Homo sapiens: one gene and its partners. The protein of the gene in region 3 interacts with the protein of the main gene of each other region in a pairwise test. Each region holds a gene or a part of one and is shown on either strand. Other genes may lie near its edges.

What was found.
Region 1: the proteins of POLR3C (region 3) and KPNA6 interact in binary tests that used the Homo sapiens proteins (3 or more experiments, as listed by UniProt).
Region 2: the proteins of POLR3C (region 3) and POLR3GL interact in binary tests that used the Homo sapiens proteins (3 or more experiments, as listed by UniProt).
Region 4: the proteins of POLR3C (region 3) and ROPN1 interact in binary tests that used the Homo sapiens proteins (3 or more experiments, as listed by UniProt).
Region 5: the proteins of POLR3C (region 3) and VRTN interact in binary tests that used the Homo sapiens proteins (3 or more experiments, as listed by UniProt).
Region 6: the proteins of POLR3C (region 3) and CEP44 interact in binary tests that used the Homo sapiens proteins (3 or more experiments, as listed by UniProt).
Region 7: the proteins of POLR3C (region 3) and KLHL2 interact in binary tests that used the Homo sapiens proteins (3 or more experiments, as listed by UniProt).

What each region holds. Positions count from the first base shown.
Region 1 is NC_000001.11:32,156,556-32,160,055, reverse strand, and holds part of KPNA6 (importin subunit alpha-7), read right to left. Parts: intron 3,204-3,500; coding exon 3,111-3,203; intron 2,711-3,110; coding exon 2,611-2,710; intron 1,790-2,610; coding exon 1,695-1,789; intron 657-1,694; coding exon 525-656; intron 1-524. UniProt on the Homo sapiens protein: Functions in nuclear protein import as an adapter protein for nuclear receptor KPNB1. Binds specifically and directly to substrates containing either a simple or bipartite NLS motif.
Region 2 is NC_000001.11:145,977,019-145,979,348, reverse strand, and holds the end of POLR3GL (DNA-directed RNA polymerase III subunit RPC7-like), read right to left. Parts: intron 2,266-2,330; coding exon 2,197-2,265; intron 1,867-2,196; coding exon 1,810-1,866; intron 1,572-1,809; coding exon 1,498-1,571; intron 1,367-1,497; coding exon 1,253-1,366; intron 989-1,252; coding exon 902-988; 3' UTR 501-901; downstream 1-500. UniProt on the Homo sapiens protein: DNA-dependent RNA polymerase catalyzes the transcription of DNA into RNA using the four ribonucleoside triphosphates as substrates. Specific peripheric component of RNA polymerase III which synthesizes small RNAs, such as 5S rRNA and tRNAs.
Region 3 is NC_000001.11:145,837,700-145,841,199, reverse strand, and holds part of POLR3C (DNA-directed RNA polymerase III subunit RPC3), read right to left. Parts: intron 3,145-3,500; coding exon 2,994-3,144; intron 1,311-2,993; coding exon 1,209-1,310; intron 1,085-1,208; coding exon 1,035-1,084; intron 279-1,034; coding exon 129-278; intron 1-128. UniProt on the Homo sapiens protein: DNA-dependent RNA polymerase catalyzes the transcription of DNA into RNA using the four ribonucleoside triphosphates as substrates.
Region 4 is NC_000003.12:123,982,125-123,985,624, forward strand, and holds part of ROPN1 (ropporin-1A), read right to left. Parts: intron 1-3,500. UniProt on the Homo sapiens protein: Important for male fertility. With ROPN1L, involved in fibrous sheath integrity and sperm motility, plays a role in PKA-dependent signaling processes required for spermatozoa capacitation.
Region 5 is NC_000014.9:74,351,471-74,354,970, forward strand, and holds part of VRTN (vertnin), read left to right. Parts: intron 1-3,500. UniProt on the Homo sapiens protein: Acts as a transcription factor that regulates development of thoracic vertebrae.
Region 6 is NC_000004.12:174,282,728-174,286,710, reverse strand, and holds the start of CEP44 (centrosomal protein of 44 kDa), read right to left. Parts: upstream 2,801-3,983; 5' UTR 2,768-2,800; exon of another isoform or gene 2,571-2,767; intron 1-2,570. UniProt on the Homo sapiens protein: Centriole-enriched microtubule-binding protein involved in centriole biogenesis. In collaboration with CEP295 and POC1B, is required for the centriole-to-centrosome conversion by ensuring the formation of bona fide centriole wall.
Region 7 is NC_000004.12:165,319,061-165,322,560, reverse strand, and holds part of KLHL2 (kelch-like protein 2), read right to left. Parts: intron 1,250-3,500; coding exon of another isoform or gene 1,236-1,249; exon of another isoform or gene 1,210-1,235; intron 530-1,209; coding exon 501-529; 3' UTR 1-500. UniProt on the Homo sapiens protein: Substrate-specific adapter of a BCR (BTB-CUL3-RBX1) E3 ubiquitin ligase complex that mediates the ubiquitination of target proteins, such as NPTXR, WNK1, WNK3 and WNK4, leading most often to their proteasomal degradation.

The DNA of each region.
Region 1 (3,500 bases), about 110 Mb from region 3:
AAGTGCTGGGATTATAGGCGTGAGCCACCGCGCCTGGCGAAAGTTGCACTCTTGTAGCTGCCTTGGACCAAGTCTATAAAAGAGCCCACTACCACTCTCCAATTCTATCCAACTAGTAAGAATTCAATGGGAGAAATGGAAGTTGTATCTTTATCTCCATGATTTGTGGGTACTCAGATATGGGTACTGTGGTGTCTTTTTTCCAATGGCACTTCCAACAACAAATGTATAGAGTTTTTTCCACATCAACCACCCATTCTCTGATACCAACCATGTGTCCAACGATTTAATTCAATTCTGACTCTAACACCTAGAGTTAATGCAGAGTCCGCAGGTTAGTCCCACAAGACTGCCCCAACTTGAGATACCAGTTGCAAGTCCCAGGGGCCATCTGTACTTGACACCCCTATCACTCAGGAAATTCCAAGAGTTTTAACACTGTGCCAAGAACCAGGACAAAGACCAAATATATTTTTTATTATACCACAGGTACTATAAAGAATCACACCAAATCTAAGCATTACCTGTTCCTGAACATCCTCAAAGTCTGAATTAAGCAGCTCTATAAAAATGGGGACAGCCCCTGCTTCAATGACAATTTTGGTCTGCTGAGAGGTTCCAGAGGCAATATTCGTTAGAGCCCAGGCAGCTTCAAACTGAAAGTGAGATTAAGCAATGATTGAAAGGTCATTTCAGACTGAGCAGCCATGCCTATCAGCTGGCTCAGAACAGTAAGCCTCCTGCCCATGAATTTAAAAAACCAAAACAAAACCTCACAAAACACAAGCAAGCCTCTTGCCCACGAATTTAAAACACACACACATAAAATACAAGCCTTTCCCCTCCCGTCTTTAGAGAGTGGGAAGATGCAGTGATGTGATATAGATGAGAATAAGACATTGGGCTTCCAGGGTCCCAGGTTTAGTCCTGCACTACCACAACACCCATGCATCCTTTGCCAGGTCACTCTTTTATTTCCTGAGCTTCACTTTCTTCATTTCTGAAATGAGGATTAGAATGAAATGGGTCTCTCAAAGTCCCTTTCAGCTGAGTTCTGGCAAGTTCCAATGGATTGACCCATCACCCATCTCTGAAACAAGAGACCCAGAGAGGCTAAACAATTTGCCTCAGGTCACACAGGTAGTGGACTATAGCCTCTGATTTATAACTGAATGATCAGTCTATCATAGTCTGGTGCCTTTCCTTTGAAATTGTTTTAAGGAAGAGATTCTGGCTGTGAGGGAACTGATGGTTTCTCCTGAATGTTTCCTAACATTACTTTTGAACTTCCTGAGAGATATGTCAATAGAAGTATCCCACTGCAATTTCTTGGAAGTAGGGCTTTCATCTAATAACCCCTTCCCAGTAGTGGGGGACTGGGGGTGGGATGGGGATAAGTAATGGGTACAAAAAAACCCAGAAAGAATTAATAAGACCTACTATTTGGTAACACAATAGGGTGACTATAGTCAATAATAACTACACAATTTAAAATAACTTAAAGTGTATAATTGGATTGTTTGTAACTTAAAGGATAAATGCTTGAGGAAATGGATACCCCATTCTCCATGATTTGCTTATTTCAAATTGCATGCCTGTGTCAAAACATCTCATGTATCCCATAAATATATATACCTACTATGTATCCCCCAAAAATTAAAAGACAAAACAAACCCCTTCCCTTCAGGCCTCACCTGTAATGTACAATTCTCATTCCTCTTCAGAAACTCCACGAACCGATCCACCACTCTTGGAGTGTTGATAACTTCATCTATTGGAGGACTAGGCTCTGGATAAGGGAGAAGGGAAAATAAAAACACAGGAGAAGCTTTTGCTGATCCCTTCATGGGGGTCAGCTTGCAATCCTTCTTAGACACTTCTGACCACCCTTACAAACATTCCCAAACTCCCTTCTGGTAAGGTGGTTTTAACAATATCTACTCGTCTTTGAACTGTATAATACAGCTGGAATGTTAAAGAGTAAAGCCAATCCTAATTTAAGAATGTTCATCTTTGGCTTACTAAATGTAAGCAAAGAAAGGTGTGGGAGAGAGAACCACCTAAGGGATGAACAACCATGGTCTGCACATTTCCCTTTCAAGAAAGACCAGTACTCTCTTCTTGGGAAGACTATTTGATATACTGAAACAAGAGGTATTTTTCCAATCATACATTAAATTTTTTTATTAAGTACCTATGGTGTGCCACACAGTTCTAGGTACAGAGGACACAGGAGGGAACAAAAACAAAAGTCTCTGCCCTCAGAGAGTTTATATCCTAGTGGGAAGAGTCATTTTATTATGTTAGAAGATAAATATAATGGGGGGAGAGGAGGAGAATATGTAGGGCAAGGTAAAAAGATAAAACTGTTGAAGGTGGGATTTAATCATAGGAGTAAGGGAGTTGCTACAAAGATATCTGGGAATAGAGGACATCAGGCAGAGGAAGTATCCAGTGTGAAGGTAGCAATGTGTCTATCTTGTACAAGCAACACCAAGGTCAGTAGGGCTAGAGCAGAATGAGTGAGGGCACGTGTAAGTTGATGACATCAGTGAAGAGAAAAGAGGCTAAATCATATAAGGCCTCTCTGACAAGGGCCAGGCTTTGTACCTTTGGAGAGCAGTTTCCGGAATTTCTGTGTGGTTGCTAACTGCAGGTCAGAATCATCAGAAAAGAGCATCTCCACCATCTCTCTTGTGATCACACTCTCCTAGAACATAAAACAAGTTTAGGACTTTGCAAACCAACATTAGAGCCAGATGTGAGCACATAATACTGCTTGGCATCCTGTTTTCTAAAAAACTGAGGGCAAGAGGATGGCATAATAGGCTCAGGAGAAGGGGTCTGTTTAATCTATAGGTGCTTCAAGTTGGGACATTTGAAAAGTGATTCCTAATTCTGAGGCAACTGATGGCTTCTCTTAAATGTTTCCTCAGATATATCTAACAAAGTTGAATCTTTGTTGACTCCTAAAGCTGACGAAAGGGTCCACAGAGGAAAGAACTTGTCATGGTTACTGGCAAAGCTGGTAGATGATGTGAACGGCCCAATTTCTGTCCTTAGAAGCAGGTGTTTTCCAGGTCAGCCTGAGGCACATGCAGGGGCCTTACCCCAGTGGTAGAGCTCACATAAGAGTCCATGAGAAGACTATCGAACATGGCAGCTTCTTCATTAATCAGCTCCACATTTCTCCGTTTAAAAAGCTGAAAGTAAAGAGACAGTGGTTAAGAGTACTCTCTGAACCAAAGAAAACAAAGAACAATCCAATGTTAAATTATGGCATAACTGACAAGGATATACTAGAGTAGCTGAGAAGTGAGGCCAAGCTTTATACATTAGTCTCCCCTTATTCAGTTTTGCTTTCTATTATTTTAGTTATCCAGTCAACCGTGGTCTGAAAATATTACACAGAAAATTCCAGAAATGAACAATTCATAAGTTTTAAATTGCATGCCATTCTGAGTAGTGTTGAAGTTTCACGCTATCTTGTTCTGTCTGGC
Region 2 (2,330 bases), 140 kb from region 3:
CAGACATACCTTTCAAAGTGGCATCTCCAGAGTCTGGAAGAGGAGGGAGTATGGTGAATAAGTCAGCTCCTCCTCCCTCCTCATACCTGGTTTTCTTGCCTTTCCCCACAAAAATAGCTGTAATCATTTTTTGTAAATAAGGACAAGATCAAGGTCAAGTGTGGGAAAGACAGGACCTATGTCCTTGTGAACATGTGTGAACAGACACAATCATGTCCTTGTGGCCTGAGGACCAGAGGCTCAGAAGTCAGCTGTACTGCAGGGGGCGTAGGCTGTTCTCTACAATTTACTTTGCATTGCCCTACAGATGAGGCCTTGAATATTCCTTGGCTGGGCTCGATTGTGAATATGTGTCCCACCATGGGGGTAGAAGGGAAGGGACAAAGGACAAGCGGGCTGTAGGGCTGTAACCCTCCAGTGTGTCACACCAGACCCGGCTTAGTTAAGCATTTCCTTCATTCCTCCAGCCCTCTGTCACCAGGCCTCACCCACAACAGAGAGACAGATAAAAACACTTTATTTAAAAGTATAAAACCAGGCTTACTCCTTCAAACTGCTCCCACCCCTAATTATCTCCACAAAGAGCTATATAAATTGGGCAGGGGTATGTGTACAGTCATCTCAGCTCTAACAACCCCAGTTCTTCTTTCAATTCTCCTTTCTCCCTTCATACAATTGAGATGTTTGTCCTTTGCACTTTCCCCAAGATAGCAAAGGTGATACAAATGTGGAAGGAGGGGAAGTGTAGAAAATAAACTGTCATCATCCTCTATTCCCATCTCCAGGGAACAGACAGATTATATGAACTCTGACCAAATGATTTGCTTGTCTGAAGAAACAAATAATAGGTACAGTTACTCTCTGTATCCTAAAGAAAGACACGAGGGTCCAGAGTCCTTCTTCAGTATATAGCCTCGTCCATATTGTCATCACTGTCACCACCAAAGTCCTCTCCATTGTCAAAATATGACATGATGTAATCAGTTTCCTGAAATGGAAAAAAAAAAAGTAAAAGTCAATTTGGCATTCACCTTCCTTCCTGTGTACCAGACCCCTTTCCTCTCAGTCACACCATTCCAGGCCTGAGACATCTCTTCCAGCTGTAGTTTGTAGAAGGGGGGCAGATGAAGTAGAGAGAAGCCCCTACCCTGGGGGGCACTATCTCTGTTGGCATGCCAACCCTCTGAGGAGAGCAACCCTAGTATAAAGAGGGTAAAGGGAGGGGGACTAAGGTGGAAGGAGTCCCCTTCACCTCTTCATGTTCTTCTTCATCATACTCTTCTTCTTCCTCCTCTTCCTTCTCTTCTTCTTCTTCTTTCTCCTCATCCTCCTCTGAAGTTACTTCTTCTTCCTTCTTCTCCAGGGTCTCATGTGGGGATGAATAGGAATAGAAACTCAGGTTCAGTTCACAGAAGGGAAAAATTGAGGCACACATGGGCCAAGAGAGAGGGAATGGATCCAGGGCTCAGGAGGTCTCTATGCACACTTCCTCCTCACCTCTAGTTTCTGTATTGTTTCCTCCTTATCTTCTGTGGTCTTAGGGGGCCTCTTGGGGAGCAGAATTGTAATCCCTGGTGGAGGGATCAAAAGGTAAACCTTCAGAGAGCAAATTTTGCCAGCTTTATAGCCCATCCTCATGCAAAGAACATGTCACTCTGCTGCCCTCATGTGGCCACTATGACATCTAGCAACAACACTTGGTAGATTGGGTATAGGAACTGGGATGGAAGGTGAGACCAGCAGCAGCCTCGGCCCTCAGGCTGATGAAGGAAACCTCTCTTCTCCCTCCTTTTTTCCAGATACACTCACGTTCCTTCTGTAGCTTCCGCACTCGGATCTTTAGCTCCCGGGGTAGACGCCGCCAATCTGGGAATAGTGGGAACGTAAATGTCAATAGGACCCTGCCTGGGGTCTCCAGTGAATACTGACTGGTTTTAAAGGGGGGTGAGGGTTTTAAAGGAGAGGAAGGAAGGGGCTGGGCCAAAGTTGTTCAGTGGCTTGGATATCTCCTGAGTAGTGGGAACTATTTAATAGCTTTTTCAGGTAGAATCTGAGAATGTGTTGGACCATAACTAAGGCTCTAGCTTGCAGATGCTGGATCGGGGAATGGGGTGGGGTCATGGGCGTGGTGGGAATAGCTTGAAGCATCCCATGCATTTGAAAGAAGGGCAGTCAATGAAAGGGCCCATCACCTACCAGGGTTCCAATCGATGGCATTGTCAATCGGACCTGACATCTGATATTTGTCTGAATAACGCTCCACATCTGAGGGGTGGAAGGGTCAAAGTTTTATCCCTTCAGAGACCCAGAACAGGACTGTTCCTGAGAGT
Region 3 (3,500 bases):
TCTGTTAAGTGAGCTGGAGGAGACAGTGAGTTTAGGTTTGCTCATGCTAAGCTGGAGGGTTACAGGAGGTCAAAATGGATTTTCTGGATGGTATTCTGAAATGCAGGTCTGAAGTTTATGATGCTTACTTGTTGACATTACGTTTCAGGGTCTCTAGCTGCTGACGTTCAGGAGCTGTGATCATCTCCTCTATTTCTTGTAACTGTGCTTCCTCTGCACCAGTAGCCTGCATAGATGCAATGATGGCTTCTACCCTCTGAGATTTTTCTAGTAGACGCCTGTCAAACAAACACAACTCTGAGACATCTTCCCTAACCTGGGAGATTCTCTTACCACGTGTGTCTGAGGCACTACCCACCACCCTTTACCATTTTCCTGATCAAAGTAGATAATGTCACCTTCTAAGGACATTTTCTACAAACTTATTTGGAAATATAACTTCACTCCTGAAATTCTTATTGCCTCTCATTTGCACTTAAAAGTTTGGTGCTTTTGTACGTTTCTCACAAATTTAATCTGAAAAATTATTTCACTGGGAGCATGTTAGAAAAGTGTAGACTAATGCATGATTTACACTAATCTAAGCCAATGATTCAATGCAAGTAGACTGGTTGCTATCTCTACTGGTTCCTACTTCTCAAAAAAAAAATTTTTTTTTTTGAGATGGAGTCTCACTTTGTCGCCCAGGCTGGAGTGCAGTGGCGTGATCTTGGTTCACTGCAACCTCCACTCACTGGGTTTAAGTGATTCTCCTGCCTTAGCCTCCCGAGTAGCTGGGACTATAGGTGCCCGCCACCATGCCCAGCTAATTTTTGTATTTTTAGTGAAGACAGGGTTTCACCATGTTGGCCAGGTTGGTCTCAAACTCCTGACCTCAAGTGATCCACCTGCCTCAGCCTCCCGAAGTGCTGGGATTACAGGCATGAGCCACCCTGCCAGGCCCAGCGTCTATTGATTCCTATTTCTAGAGGAAATTTCCCCTGAGGCCCTTGATCTTGAAAGATGTAAATAACTCAACTGAAAATGTTACTTACTTATTCTCTTTGGTTTCAAATTGCCTCCTTTCTATCAAGTTGGCTATGCTCTGAGGAAAGAGAAGACAGACAAGGAATGCACATAGTTCTATTTCAGCAGCTCAGGGCGAAGTGGGCACATGAGGGGTACTTGACCGTATGGAGGAAATGGGGAGAAGGTCCAGATTGAGTTACCTTGTAGCACCTGTGCAACAACATTCGGGCAGCTGACAGGATGTTCACAGTATATAAATAGAAGGTCCTGGATGGGGCATGGTCTGGTGTTTTGGGAATTTCCTATTTGTCCAATAGAAAGAAAAATAGCAGAAATTATACTGTTTTAGAACTGGCAAAGCACACACTCATTCTACCTGGAGTTACTTAGCCCTCCTTTTTACTTACACTTTCCTGTTTCCTAGTCATTCAGTACCTGTGTTTATTTTATTTATTTATTTTGAGACTGGGTCTTGCTCTGTTACCTAGGATGGAGTGCGGTGGCATGATATCAGCTCACTGCAACTTCCACCTCCGGCTCAAGCAATCCTCCCACCTCAGTCCCCCAAGTAGCCGGAACTACAGGCATGCACCACCATGCTCCGCTAATTTTTTAATCTTTTGGGGGTGGTGGAGACATGGTCTCACTATATTTTCCAGGCTGGTCTTGAATTCCTGGGCTCAAGTGATCATCCCGCCTTGGTTTCCCAAAGTGCTGAGAATACAGGTGTGCCCGGCCCAGTCTTTGTGGTTTATGTCATAATCAGTCAAATGGAGAGCTGGGCTTCCCTGTTTTTTCCATTTGACTGTCAGCATCCTGAGCTGGGGAAGAAAGGGAGGGCAACTAACATTTACTGAACAACTCTATGTGCCAGGTAAATTCTATTTGATCTTTACAAAAAGTCGTATTATTATTATTTTTGAGACAGAGTCTTGCTCTGTTGCCCAGGCTGGAGTGCAGTGGCACAATGTTGGCTCACTGCAACCTCTGCCTCCCAGGTTCAAGCAATTCTCCTTCCTCAGCCTCCTGAGTAGCTGGGATTACAGACACACGGCACCACGCCCAGCTAATTTTTGTATTTTTAGTAGAGACAGGGTTTCACCAGGTTGGCCAGGCTATTCTCGAATTCCTGACCTCAAGTGATCCGTCCGCCTAGGCCTCCCAAAGTGCTGGGATTACAGGCATGAGCCACCGCACCTGGCAACCATATTATTTTTATTATCACCATCCATCACTGTTTTATAGATGGGAAACGTGGTAACTTGCTTAATGTAACTGGGTAAGGCAGAGCTGTAATCTGACTCCAAAAATCCATTCTATCTATTTACTCATATGCTCTACTAAATAGCCCTGCAAAGACTCAGTTAGATGTGTTGATAAATTTAAACTATAACAGAATTAAGGCTTAAGGAAGGACAGAAATGAGAAGAGAAAAAAAGGCAGGGTGGGTTTGGGGTGATGTCCTGGCTCTGCCTCTTTTTTGTTTTTTGTTTTTTTTGTTTTTTGAGACAGAGTCTCACTCTGTTGCTCAGGCTAGAGTGCAGTGGCTTGATCTCGGCTCACTGCAACCTCCCCCTCCTGGGTTCAAGAGAGTCTCCTTCCTGCCTCAGCCTCCCGAGCAGCTGGGACTATAGGCGTGTGCCACCAGGCCCAGCTAATTGTTTTGTATTTTATTAGAGACGGAGTTTCACCATGTTGGCCAGGCTGGTCTCGAACTCCTGACCTCAAGTGATTTGCCCACCTTGGCCTCCCAAAGTGCTGGGACTACAGGCGCGAACCACCGTGCCCGGCCACCTCTTTCTCACTAGGGCAGTTAAGGCCCCAAATTATCCTCCAAGTGCTCGCTATGTCTCTGTGAATCATGTTTTTCTGTCTCAGAGCTGGATATAGAGTTTGCTTGGGGGTTCAGTATGTTTGCCTAAGAAGCTTCTCTCACCCTAGGCCAGCTTTGCTGGTTGGCAATTATTACGCCCTTGGTTGGTTACCTGGAGTGACATGAAATTTTCTGAGAGCATCTTATATAGCATATCCTTTGCCTCCTTTGCAGGAATCATTGCAAAGTCTTCCACTTGCTTCTGCTCTATGTGTTTCTTCTGCAAAACTAGACGGAATATTCTAGCACAGCGAGACCCAAATCTGGAAAGGAATGAAGAAAGCAAATGGCATGCTAACATAGATCAGCTTTAGTTCCCAGTCATAGATGGGGTGGTTGTTCTATTCCATGTGTGAAGCCAGTACCAGACAGGAACAGTGATCAGAAAATTATTCTACAGCTCCATAGGTTGGTGATGGTAAGGCATCACCAACTGCTGTTAATCATAAGGCAGTCACCAACTGCTGACTCATTTGAGTGCCACAGTTCCTACATTTGTAAGCAAAGGCTTTAGGGAGGCTGGTTAATTTGCATCGGTAGGAATTAAACAGTAGGTTATTTTAAGGTAAAGAGCAGTATTACATGAGATCCATAGGAGTCCAGTGAAAAAATGGGGAAA
Region 4 (3,500 bases), on a different chromosome or scaffold from region 3:
AAGAATAACCAATAAAAGTTAAGGTAGACATACTCATGCCAGACAAAAGATACTTTAAGGCAAAATGCACTATTAGGAAAAAAGAGTGACGAAAGCTTCAATTGTTTTTGATAAAATGATAAAAAGCTTCAATTGTTAAGACAATAACAACAATTCTCAATGAGTATGCCACAGACATCACCATGGAGGAGTCTCACCATGCTAGGTGGAAAAGCAATATATTGTTTCTGGTGACATATATATGTTATAATATTATAATAAAGAGTAAGGAATGATAAATACAAATTCAGAATGGTGGTTACCCCTGGTGGAGGAGGGAGAGGATGGAGAGGGATGTTATTAGGGAAATACAACAAGGGTCTCAGTACTATTAGTAATGCTCTATGTTTTAAGCTGGATGGTTGCTGTCTAGATGCTTGTTTCATTATTTTTATACTTCTACTTACATCATGTATTTAATTTTGTCAGTATGAAATATTTCATCATTTAAAAAGTTACTCTTATAAGTTGTTTCTGATGACTTTTCAACCCATTTTATCTATCAAAGAGCAGTGCCTTATTTGCTCATGTTGTCTGCACATATATATATTCTTTTACTGTGTTAAAAATACATACAATTTACCATTTTAAATGTACAGTTCAGTGTCATTAAGTACATTCACATTGTTGTGCCACAATCACCACCAGCCATCTCCAGAACTTTTTCATCTTCACTAGCTGAAACTCTGTACCCATTAAGTACTAACTCCCTATTCTCCTTCCCCACAGCTCCTGGCAACCACCATTCTTCTATCTTCATGAATTTGACTATCATATAAAATCATATGGCATATAATATTTGTCCCTTTGTGTGTGGTTTATTTCGCTTAGCACAATGTCTTCAGGTTCATTCATGTGGTAGCATGTGTCAGAATTTCCTTTTTTTTGGATCCATAGTCAGATGTGTTACCCATTGCACCACTGGCCCCAAGCTGAGAATTTCCTTGTTCTTAAGGCTGAATACTATTTTGCTAGATGTACCACAATTTTATCCATTCATAGGTCAATGGACAGTCGGATCATTTCCACATTTTAGCTATTGTGAATAATGCTGCTATGAACATAGGTATACAAATATGTGTTCAAGTCCTTGCTTTAAATTGTGTTGGGTATATATACCCAGAAGTGGAATGGATGGATCATATGGTAATTGTATTTTAATTTTTTGAGGAACTGCCACACTGTTTTCCACAGCGGCTGCACCATTTTCTGTGTCCATGTATTTTGACAGGATCTTTTGGTTGTGCAATTGTTTAATTTCTCTCCTGGAGTCTCAGATAATCTCGTGTAAACGAAAAGATGCCCCAATCCTAATTAAGGAAGCTTCCATGACAACAGTAACAATGTTAACCCTTAGTCAGTATAGAGCAAACTTAAGTAAAGCCTTTACTTCATCCCATTGCTGTTTCTAACAATTGGTCTGCAAGCTCTTTTCATTTTGGGGCAAGGAATCTCTTGTAAGTTTTCCATACCCATTGTCTTTCTCAGGGGTTGGTCCTTCTTTAACCTCTTGCAGTTTTTTTTTCTCTTCTCATCATTCTATTTTTCCCTTAAAAGTTATCAATTATATCTATTAATTTATTGTAAGTGCCAGGTGCACTCATAACAGGACCAGTACTGTGCTAAGTACAGGACCATACATTTTTCTCAAGTAATCCTCAAAATATCCCTATGGGGTAGAATATATTAGCATTATTTCACAGATAATGAAACTAGAAAAGATAACAGAACTTTTGCAATGACATATAATAAGTGACAGAGGCAGGATTTGAATACACATAGTCTGACATGGGAGGTGGCCTGCTAGACATGACAATTCTTTCCTTCTTGAGACTTTCTCTTCCTTTGATAGCATACGCCATTCTTGTGTGTCTATTTTCCTCAGCATTGCTCCTTTGCCTCCTTCCATAATTCCTCTTCCTCCTTCCTTGCTCTGAGGAAGAGTTAGCAATCTTCCCCCAACTCAGGTCTTCAGCATTCTTTCTGTTGCTCTTCTTGGAGAGCTCGCAGCCTCTTCACGGCTTTATCTACGACAAAACTGTGTGGATTGCACTTGTTTTCCCATCTTTGACCTCTCGCCTTGTGCTTCTATTTCATACTTCCCATTGCCTCCAGGACACTTCACTAGAATCCATTGTCCATCTCCCAACTAAATCTCTCTCCCAGGTTCTTCTCTGAACATGATACCACTAATCTCTCAGTCCTTTGGCCTCAAAGTCTGAGAGTCATCCATTTTCTTCAGTCTGCTGAATCTCACTAAATCCCACTATTTCCTTTGAAATGTGTCTTCAATTAATCCCTTTCTATTTCTACTCCTGTGTCTCTGGCTCAGCCCCTTATCACCTATTGTGCAGCCTCCTGACTAGTCTCCCTGTCTCAGGTCATTCTCTGGCCTGTCCTGTTCAGTGTGTCCAGATCTATCTTCCAAGTTGCTTTTTATAGTCAGAGAGCACTGCTCACAAAATGACAATCATATCCTGACTTTCAAGGTTTTCTATGATTTGTACCTATAATTCTAAACTAAAAATTTTCCGCTACTCTTTACCAACACAAATTTCCTATACAGTCTGCTCTGGCCACTTTCCAAAAAAAAAAATTATATATCCAAAGCTTAACACTGTCTCGCCCACTGTTAACAGTAATCTATCCTTCTTTTCTCTCTTCCCCTCAGTATTTTGCTAATTCTAGCCGGCTTACTTGAAGTGCCCTTCTTCTTTCATCTGCTTAAACCCTATACTTCCCCAGGGTTTTTCATACTGTGCCATAGGCCTTCCTAGAAAACTTGGATATCATCAAATATTGTTTGTAGTATGCATATTACCACTCAATCCTCTTCTGCCTTTCATTGCTCTCTAAAGCTGAGCTCCCCACTAGAGGCCATGGCAGAATGGGCTACAGGTGTGCCATGAAAGATTGATGGTTGTAAACTTTTTATAGTAATACAAAATGTACAACCACTTACAAACTTACAACAGTTGAAATTATATTTGGATACTGTTTGGCACAGTCAGTAAACTTCCAGATTTCATTACCTATTGTTTCTGTGCCGAAGGTTTTATGTATAACACCTGCTGCCAGAGACGCCTTTATAGGGCTTTTCCTTTCAACCATCTTGTTAAAACAATCCCTGTACGTTGGATTATTACTTTAATTGCAATGCATTTATTATCAGTGACAATGATAATCTTTATGCATATGTGTTGCAAATACTTAGCTCTACTTTTGATTTAATTTTCTCTTATTTTTCACATTATTTTCTCCTAACAAAGAAGTTATATGATTTTTCTTCATCATCACCATCACCATCATCATCATCATTTGTCCCTAAGAAAACAGTAGATTTTGTTCACTTTTTTTCCCATTGTGACTTGATTTGTTTGTGACTTATTTATTCTTGGCTTTTGATGTTAAACAAATATCCAAAATCTGATACTTAATGGACTTTTGTAATGACTTGTTTG
Region 5 (3,500 bases), on a different chromosome or scaffold from region 3:
TCCAAAGGTGATTCTGATTACCAGGTTTTTTTTTTTTTTTTTTTTTTTTTAAGACAGTCTCACTCTGACACCCGGGCTGGAGTGCAGTGGCATAATCTCAGTCCCCTGAGGCTCAGGTTATCCACCTCAGCCTCCTGAGTAGCTGGGACTACAGGCACATGCTACTATGCAGGCTAATTTTTTTTTTTCCGTAGAGATGGGGTTATGTTATGTTGTCCAGGCTGGTCTCTAACTCCTAGGGCTCAAGCTATCTGCCCACTTCAGCCTCCCAAAGTTCTGGGATTACAGGCATGAGCCACTGCACTTGGGCTGATTACCAATTTTTAAACGACTTTCCTTCTTTGGTTATCAAGTAAAATTCTGGTGGCTGTTCCCTCAGTACTTTTTTTTTTGAGACGGAGTCTCGCTCTGTTTCCAGGCTAGAGTACAGTGGTGCGATCTTGGCTCACTGCAACCTCCGTCTCTTGGGTTCAAGTGATTCTCCTGCCTCAGCCTCCCGAGTAGCTGGGACTACAGGCGCGGGCCACCATGCCCAGCTAATTATTTTTTTTTTGTATTTTTAGTAGACACAGGGTTTCACCATGTTGTCCAGGATGGTCTTGATCTCTTGACCTTGTGATCCGCCTGCCTCGTCCTCCCAAAGTGCTGGGATTACAGGCCTGAGCCACCACCATGCCCGGCCTCAGTACTTTTAATTTTTTTTATTTATGTTTTATTTTTTATTTTTGAGATGGAGTCTCACTCTGTCACCCAGGCTGGAGTGCGGTGGGCGATCTCGGCTCACTGCAACCTCTGCTGCCCAGGTTCAACCAATTCTTCTGCCTCGGCCTCCCGAGTAGCTGGGATAACAGGCACCTGCCACTGCACCTGGCTAATTTTTGCATTTTTAGTAGAGATGGGGTTTCACCATCTTGGCCAGGCTGGTCATGAACTCCTGATCTCGTGATCCACCTGCCTCAGCCTCCCAAAGTGCTGGGATTACAGGTGTGAGCCACTGCGCCCCAGCCCTACTTTTAATTTTTTAAAACATTTTTACTAAATTACAATTTGCATTCATCCACTCCTTTCAAATGTAGCTTTTTTGTTTTGTTTTGCTTTTTGGGGACAGTCTCCTCTGTTGCTCAGGCTGAAGTCCGGTGGCGTGATCATAGCTCACTGTAACCTCGAACTATGCTCAAGTAATCTTCCTGCCTCAGCCTCCCAAAGTGCTGGGATTATAGGCGTGTGCCACCACGCCTGGCCTTAAGCGTACAGTTTGATCTGAAAAATGTATATACCCAAACACCATTTTTAAACCTAAGGGTCATCTAAAGCAATTTATTGAACTCTGAGAACAAGTTTAATTTGAGAACATGATCTGAGAAACCAGAAAGGATAATGGTCCCTCCCCTAATGTAAAAAGTGTCTATGAAGGAATACCACTCTGCTTTGCAACTGAACAATAAAAACATACCAATAATTGAGATGATTAGTTTTGTGTTAAAAGGTGGTTAATGGTTTGAACAGGAGATGAATCACAGACCCTAAAGAGCATCTGGGGCCAGGCATGGTGGCTCACGCCTGTAATCCCAGCACTTTGGGAGGCCAAGGTGGGTGGATCACCTGAGGTCAGGAGTTTGAGACCATGAGACCACCCTGTCGGACATGGTGAAACCCCATCTCTACAACATAAGCTGGGCGTGGTGGCATGTGCCTACAGTCCTAGTTACTCTGGAGGTTGAGGCAGGAGAATCGCTTGAACCCTGGGGGCGGAGGTTGTAGTGAGCAAAGAATGAGCCACTGTACCCCAGCCTGGGTGATAGAGTGAGATTCTGTCTCAAAAAAAAAGAAAAAAAGTGTTTGGTTTCAACTAACTTGTATTGTGACCTTGGGCAAATTAGGTTAACTTCAGTTGCCTCAGTTTCCTCACCTGTAAATTGGGGATAATGGTAGTACTTAAAGTATTAGTGTCAGGATTAGGACAGTGCATGGCAAATAGTAAATGCTCAGTAAATCATAGTTATTAGATCTTTGTGCAGTGAATAGATTGTTGCTACCCCTTTGAAAGGCTGTTTCTGGGGCAGCACTTCTCAAACTTTTTGGTTTCAGGACTCCTGTACGGTCTGCAGACCCTGAAAACCTTTTGTTTATATAGGTTATATCTACCAGTGTATATTGTACACAAAATTAAAAATAAGAAATAAATTTTAAAAAGCCTGTTATACAGTAACAAATAATCATTTTTATGAGAAGTGACATTTCCAGAGCAAAAAAACTACTTTTTTTTTTTTGAGATGGAGTCTCACTCTGTCGTCCAGGCTGGACTGCAGTGGCGTGATCTTGGCTCACTGTAAGCTCCGCCTCCCGGGTTCACGCCATTCTCCTGCCTCAGCCTCCCGAGTAGCTGGGACTAGAGGCGCCCGCCAGCGTGCCCGGCTAATTTTTTGTATTTTTAGTGGAGACGGGCTTTCACCATGCTAGCCAGGATGGATTTTTGTATTTTTAGTAGAGACAGAGTTTCACCATGTTAGCCAGGCTGGTCTTGAACTCCCGACCTCAAGTGATCTGCCTGCCTCGGCCTATCTTCTTTTAAACCAGATACTATGGAGACTTGGAAAAATGTTAAATAATGTCCGAGAGCACATTATTCTACATTTTTACATTTTACATTTTTCTGTATCTCCATAGTATTTGGTTTAAAAGAAGATGAGTACTTTCTCATATCTTTCTATATTCAATCTGTTTTGATATATTGTTTTGGTGGAAGCATCTGAAGAAAATCTAACTTCATCAGATATATAGATGGAAAAAGGAGGAGTATTTTGATCACTTTTTCAGTGGATTTTTTTGATATTATACCAAAACTTTACAAGTAGTAGCTTCTCAAAGCTTAGTTATAATGTGGAATTTGAAACCATATCCATGAACTTTTTGTACCCTGTTATATTAAAATCCATGGGTCTTTTTTTTTTTTGAGATGGAGTCTCGCTCTGTCCCCAGGGTGGAGTGCAGTGATGCAATCTTGGCTCACTGCAGCCTCTGCCTCCCGGGTTCAAGCAATTCTCCTGCCTCAGCCTCCTGAGTAGCTGGGACCACAGGCATGTGCTGCCACTCCTGGCTAATTTTTGTATTTTTAGTAGAGACGGGGTTTCACCACATTGGCCAGGATGGTCTCGATCTCCTGAGCTCGTGGTCCGCCCGTGTCGGCCTCCCAAAGTGCTGGGATTACAGGTGTGAGCCACCACACCCAGCCCCATGGGTTTCTTTTATACTTTGAATGATTCTTCTACAAGTGCATGACTTTGTAACAGCACCCATTGGCTATTTGGAAAATGTTCACTGAGTGATGTAGATCTTTAGTGGAAACAATTGACAATTCATTATACAGCATAAAAAATTATATTTGTTAGGGCTGGGCGTGACGGCTCACACCTGTAATCCCAGCACTTTGGGAACCTGAGGCGGGCAGATCATTTGAGGTCAGGAGTTTGAGACCAGCCTGGCCAACATGGTGAAACCCC
Region 6 (3,983 bases), on a different chromosome or scaffold from region 3:
AGTGGGACTTTCATTAGATTATCAAAGGAGATTTTTCCCAAAGAAGAGTCATAAATAGGTATATAAACGATTAAGAACCTTTGCTGGAAGGAGGTAAGTTTCTGAACTATAAAAGTCTAGTCAGCCAGTAACGTGAAACTCAATAACTTACATAAAAACATCTACCACAACTGTCCATGGACACTTCATAGAAGAAAAGTAATACATAACAATACCTTGAGTAATGAACCCTTTGAGAATGAAGCTCCTTTAAAATGAAGTTATCACATTAAAATGAAGTCATTATATTAAAATGAAAACAGAACAATTCATAAATCAGGTGAAGCTGGGTTAGTGTGATCTTTTCCTCCAATTCGCATTACCCAGCTGTCCAGGATACAAATCATCCCTTTACACACCGTTTCTCTATCTTTAAATAAGGAAAGGTAAGAAGGTCACCGATTTACAAAATCCTAAATTTAGTAAGCTTCCTACTTTAAGCCCCTCGCCACTCATTTCCACAGCCATTTCCCCAGGGTAGAGCAACTGCTCCCTCTTTATGAACCTACCTTTCTGTTCCTAGTCTCCTTTATCAACATGGTAGGCAACAGCTTATTGAATATACTTTATAGACTTGTGCATGCACATTTTAGTCACTATTTTTCAGCCAATAAATTACTTCAACTAAACATTTACATTTCTAGACAGAGATAATTTTAGGTACTGTCAAATGGGAGATAACTAGAAAAAGAGAAAGTCATCCTGAAATCACATTATACAAAACACTGGCCAAGAAGGTAAACCCTATTTAATATCCTTTAGACTGACTGGGGGTAGATGGACACACGGAAGCCTAAAAGGGATTTCCCAAGATAAGCCTTTACTTTCCTGAAAAACATGAAGTGAGGACTACTCTGGCTTTAACCGCAAAAAATGTATTCTTGGATTTTGCCACTGGCCAATATAGTAGGTCTGAGCTTCTTTCGGGTTCCAGACCCATCTATCGTAACACAATTCTTCTAGGGATACCTTCTTCCCAGTAACTTTAATGTAAATTCTATGTCTTTCCAGACTTCCTTTAGTCCTTCCAGATGTATATTCCATTTTCCCAGTGCAAGTAATTCTGTTTTACGTAACACTTTATGATATCTTCTCACCTTTCCTTTTTCTGACATTTTGGAAAACATTTCAGTGTCTCTTACATGATTTCTACCTCTGATAATGGAATTTCTGACAACAAAGTTATGTCTCTCTTCAGTACCAGTGAATAAATATTTTGAAGAGTAATACAAGCAGAGCTCGTGAACGAGGTAAGTGATAGGAGACAGAAAAATAAAGGGATTTAAAATTGGGATTATCACAGAATAAAATTACAGCTACTGCTCTACATTCTCACAAAGGGCTTTACTAAGTCTACTATAAAATTCAAAAGCCTTAAAAACAAGACATTAAAAGAAGCCAATCTATTACTTATGTACATTTTAACACCTTACTTTCATTAATGAAAAATACTTTTAAAAATTTAACATTTTCAACTTATAGCACTGATCAAAGGCAAACTAAGGAAAAAAGGAGATACCACTCAGCTTGCAGCATAGATTCAATAATAAAGAAGCTCTCAATATTCCTTTCTAGCTTCCTTCCTTGTCTACAAGTCAGATCTGCGCAATTGAACTTGTGGGAGAGGTTGTGAAAATAGTGTACTCTAGCAGTTTAGGATTTTCAACATCGCTCAATCTCATTGCTGTTAGAGGTCATTAAAACAATGCCTCCCAATAGAATGTCACTGGACCAGAGTGATTTTTGTTTAGAATGAAGCAACTACACTGACTCTAATAACAGTCAATGGCTAAGAGTTTGTGACATAGCACATAATGCTCGATATTATCTAAAAACACGTATCAAAAACAAAAAAGTAAAGATGAGAAAAACAGTTTATGAAACTGCAAAAGATATTAGGGAAATACTTCTCTAAGAGATAGGAGAAAGGTCTGAGAAAGGCAAAGCATCGAGAAAGCTGGGCGGGAGTGGGGAGGAGTAAGGGACAAGTAAAGAGTTCAACGGGACTGCTGTGTTCACACATAAAATTAAAAGGTCTGCAGATAATTCGGGAAAAAAACAGTCTAGCATGGCCATAATTCCAGAGTAAAAGAGAATAACAACTTCAAGATTAACTTGTTACAGTGAGGGAAAAATCTGTAGCCTTCAATAAAGGTGGAGAAATATTTGAAAAGCTGGGGAAATGCCAACAAGGAAAACACGAACTGCTGTCCTGTCTTCCTTATAGTCAGGAGCCGTTTGTATCCTCACCCCAGAGGATCCAATAGGAATCAGTAAGCCTATAACTTTCCAACCCTAAGTCACAACCTAATTCTGATAGGATGAGCTACCACGATACTTCCCACTTCGTTGTGACTAAAAGCATATACTAGTTGGGTATATAAGCAAGGCTCCCCTCCCGCCATTTGATTTAAAAGAATGAAAAGGCGGATCTGGTCATTCGTCTCCGCCCGGGGTCTCTGTAAGGACGGCGGAGAGAGGCGACCTCCGCCCAATACCAGGCGCAGCCTTGCCGTCTCCTCGGGGCTCACCAAGCAGCCACCAGCAAAGAAGCCGGTTTCAAAGGCCCAGCACGACAGGGAGAGGAAAACGGAGCATATGCAACCATACACAGTCACCAGAGTCCAGCCTCCCGCAACCAGTCGCTACAGCCAGGCGCCTGCGCCCAGAAGCGCTTCTCGCGCCGACCGTTTGTATTTGGAATTGTGGGTTCCTGCCCGCCACGCACCACCGCAAGACCTTCAAAGCTGGGAGCTTCTCTGTGCTCCAGGATTCCTCGCTGCCGATTCCACACCGCGTTCAAGACTCCTGTGAAGAGCGACTCCGCTGAGAGCCTCCTCAATGGCCAGTCCACTTCTAACTTGCAGCTGAGAAGTTTTTCTGATCTTGATGGTCAGAGTGGCTCGTGCTACGAAGTGAGAAACAAGGAATCTATAGCGAATCGTAAACAACAGAAATAAAAATGCGTCTCCGTTAAGAGTCGGAGCCTAACGTCACTTCCGGCAACAATAGGAAACGTCAAAATTGGGATAGTCGGCAGTTCTGGCCCCTGCAGCTGGAGGTACCCTGAGTTCTGAGGGTCGTAGTGCTGTTTCTGGTATTCTCATCGCGGTCACCTCTACCGGTGTGGACAAGTAAAGTTTGAATCAGCTTCTCCATGGCCTGGGCACCAGTTCCCGGCTGAGCCATTTTCCTTTTGGCTAAAAGTCCCCGCCCAGAGGCCAATTCGTCGCGGCGGCGGTGGAGATCGCAGGTCGCTCAGGTACAGGAGTCAACCTAGATATTTTAGATCTCTTGTCTCTTTTCCCTGTTCACCTTCACTTTTCTCGAAAATAAAGACAACCAGTGCTTGCCAGTTGGCCGAAACTGGCCGACCAGCAAGAGTTTGCGACCAATGACAGTGCGAAGCATCTTGAGTGACAGTAGTGGTGGCTCATTAAAGTGAGGAATCACTGTCAGGAGGCGGAACTGGGTGTGTTCCTTCTGTTTCTAGGCCATTGGGGTGTAGTTCGGTTTAGGACTCCAAGTAGTAACCCAGCGTCATTGTGAAATAAACCTGAGAAATGACAAGGGTTACTTTCTTCAGGTCCAAGTGTTGGTTTTCGGGTCGAGTGTTATTTTGGTTCCTAGACAGTTTTTGGTTCTTTACCACTTTCCAGTAATATGAATGCAAACACAAGTATAGTTAAGATCACGATGGATTGCTAGCTGCTACAGTAGTCAAACTTGGGTTATAAAACTTGTCAAACTTGTCTTTTATTTGTTTCTCAGCGACTGGGTTCTAATCTCTTACGTAGAAGGTTCTCAATATTTATTTGGCAAAATCACATAAATGGATCCCAATCCTCAGTCATTTAATTTTTTTAGTTTTATTTTTAGGTTCTGTATGAATTTACTAATAAAATAATTGATTCTACTTGTTTTACAAGTAAAATATTCATTTT
Region 7 (3,500 bases), on a different chromosome or scaffold from region 3:
ATTCATGTAATCAAAGTTATTTTATAAAAGCAAACAGTGTATCCCTCAACTAGTTTGTATACTTACGTAGATTTTAATATCTGTTCAAAGATTTTCAGTTCCTGGTATACAGATTTTTAGAAGAAATAAAGATAAAATTTAATTTTACAAGAACACACATTACTTCATCCTCCTTCACAAAATAATCTGTAGTCATTCAAGGTTGATAAGAACTAGTCTTTATGAAAGCAACTGTTGTCTAAAGACTACAGATTAAGTCCTGCAGTCCAAGTTTCTTATGAAAATTCAGTCAGCTGCTGCTCATTGCAGAAAAAGCCTACACGGTGCTTCTACCAAAAATAATCTTCAGTATCTGAGGCCTATAAAGGCAGACGATCGTATCTTCTGCTGAGACTTAAAGTGCAGCTACAAGTGGAGAAGTGCTAGATTCTCAGTCACTTCACAAATACTTGTTGAAGGCTGTTTCTCATGTATAAATATGCTGAAAATGTCCTTCAGGCTCATAATGGTTTATCAATAACTGTGACCCCTGAGCAAAGAAATGAAGAGAGAAAAAAGAAGTCACAGGCAGCACTCTGTATCTCTGAGAAAACACTCAATTCTTCATTATAATACGAAGGCAGGAGGAACTGTACAAATCATGTTTCAGAATCTCTTTCTTAAACTTTAGTAGTATTATCATTTGAATCTAAATGACAGTGAAAACTCTGTTTAGTTATGGGCTAGTTAAATATAAGACTATTTAATCCAGAACTAGTCTTTTCCTCTTTGTAGTTACAATTTGGAAAATATACTCAAAAGGGAACACAGAAACTTTTGAGCATGATGGATATGTTCATTATCTTGATTGTGGTGATGGTTTCATGGGTATATACTCTGTCAAAAGTAATAAAATTATATAGTTTAAATATACAGTTGACCCTTGAACCGACATGGGGGTCAGGGGTGCTGACCCTCCACGCAGTCAAAAACCCATGTATAATTTTTTACTCCCGCATAATTTAATTACTAATAGCTTACAGTTGACCAAACGCCTTACTGATACAGTCAATTAACACATATTTTACATGTAATATATGTTATGTATGTCATAACATGTTATGTGTTATATATTGTATTCTTAAAGTAAGCTACAGAAAAGGAAATGTTATTTAAAAAGTCATAAGGAAGAGGAACTATATTTACTATTCATTAAGGGGAAGTGGATCATCATCAAGGTCTTCATCCTTGTCTCTTCACATTGAGCAGGCTGAGGAGGAGGAGAAAGAGGAGAGGTTGGTCTTGTTGTTTCAGGGGTGGCAGAGGCAGAAGAGGTGGAGGAGGTGGAAGGGAAGGCAGGGGAAACAGGAGAGGCAGACACACTTGGTGCAACTTTAAGGAAATACACTGTTAATTCCTGTCTGACTTTTTTGTTTTTTTCATTTCTCTAAAAATGTTTCCACATAATACCAATCGTCTTTCCACTACTTTCTTCAGTTACAGTGCACATATCATAGAAGGGCCCATTTCATAAAGTAAGTCATAAACAGTCTTGAATAACCAAACCCTTTTGCCAGACTGTCTAATGTCAATTTGTTTTCTGACATTGCTTCTACATCTTCTTCATTGTCTGGCAGTGGTTAAGAAGCACTCATCTCCGTCGAGTCATGTTCTGTTAATTTCTCTGGTTTGGTATCTATTAGCTCTTGAATTTCTCCAAGATCCATACCTTGAAACCCTTCACCATCAACCTTTATAGCCACATCCATGATCTCTTTCATGATTTCTTTGACTGGCTCTGTCATAACTCCTGTGAAGTCATACACAACATCTGAACACAGTTTTTTTCCAGCAGGAATTTATTGTTTTGGGTTTGATGACTTTCATAGCTTTTTCTATAACAATGATATATTCAATGGTGTAATCCATCCAGACTTTCATGTTTTCTCTGTTGAGATTCTCTTCCATAGCACTGGCAATTTTTTCCATAGAGTGCCATGTATAATGAAACTTTAAGGTTCCTATGGTCACTGATCTAGAGGCTGAATTAGATACATTGTGTTTAGGGGCAAGTAGACCACTTCTATGCCTTTGGTGTTGAACTCATGGGGTTCTGGGTGGCCAAGGGCACTGTCCAATATCAAAATAAAAAGCAGTCCCTTACTGGCATGGTACTTCCTGAACCTGAAGCATAGATGGAACCAGTCCGGGAAAAGATTTCTTGTCTAGGCCTTCTTGTTATACAGTCAAAAGACTGGCAGCTGGTATTTATATTTTCCCTTCAAGGATTGGGGGTTAGCAACTTTTTAGATAAGAGCAGTCCAAATCATAAACCCAACTGCATTTGCACAAAATAGTAGAGTTAGCTTATCCCTTTCTGCCTTAAATTCTGGTGCTTGCTTATCTTCCTAATAAATGTCCCTGGTGGCACATTTGTCTGCATTAAAAACTTGTTCAGGCAGATATCCATTCTCCTCAACAACTTTCTTCATGGCATCTGGGAGCTCATCTGCTGGCCCCTTGGTTGACAGAAGTGTTCTCCTGTTATCTTGACATTTTTTGAGCCAAACCCCTTTCCAAAATTATCAAGTCATCCTTTGCTTGAGTAGGCTGAGGAAATTCTCCAGCTTTAGATCCTTCACCTTCCTTTTGCTTCAGGTTGTCACATAATGACTTTCCTTTTTCTCAAATCATATTAGAGTTGACAGGTATGCCTTTCTTACAGCAATCCTGCACCCACCAAAAACCAAAACCAAAAAGTCAAAAATAATAAAAATAATAAAAATTTAAAAATTAGCCAGGTGTGGTGGCACATCCCTGTAATCCCAGCTACTCAGGAAGCTGAGGCATGAGAATCGTTTGAATCTGGGAGGCGGAGGTTGCAGTGATCTGAGATCACGCTGTTGCACTCCAGCCTGGGCGACAAGAGTGAGATTCTGTCTCAAAAACAAAAATCCTGCACCCACATAAAAGCTGCATGTTCAACACAAGATAAAAAGGGATTTCACAAAAAGTGTGAAGTTTTCAAAACTGCTGGGATGGCTGCAGGGACGGCTTCATGAATTTCCTTTTTCCTTTTTACAATGATCCCTACCCTGGATTCATTTATTTTGAAATGGTGGGCAAGTGCAGCAGCAGACCTCAATCCATGGTATATCTCAAGCAATTCAGCTTTTTCTTGTAATGTCATGACTCTTCTCTGCTTCGTTGAAGCACTTCCTAGCACCATCACCGGTGGCACTTTGTATGGGTCCCATGGTATTATTCAAGGTTTATGATATTGCAGTAAACATGATGAAAAATAAGGCAGAACCATGAGAGAGAACTTTTTACTGAGATACGCATCGCTGAAGAGACAAACTGCTCTTTCAAAGGTAATTAGCCCCCCACAGCTTTTTAAGTGGATACTCACAACAGCTGAGCTCACCAATACAGCAACAGGAGACGGCTATAAAATTATTATAGTAGTACAGTAACATACTACAGTTAATTTCATGCAGTTATGATTTAATATTGTATCT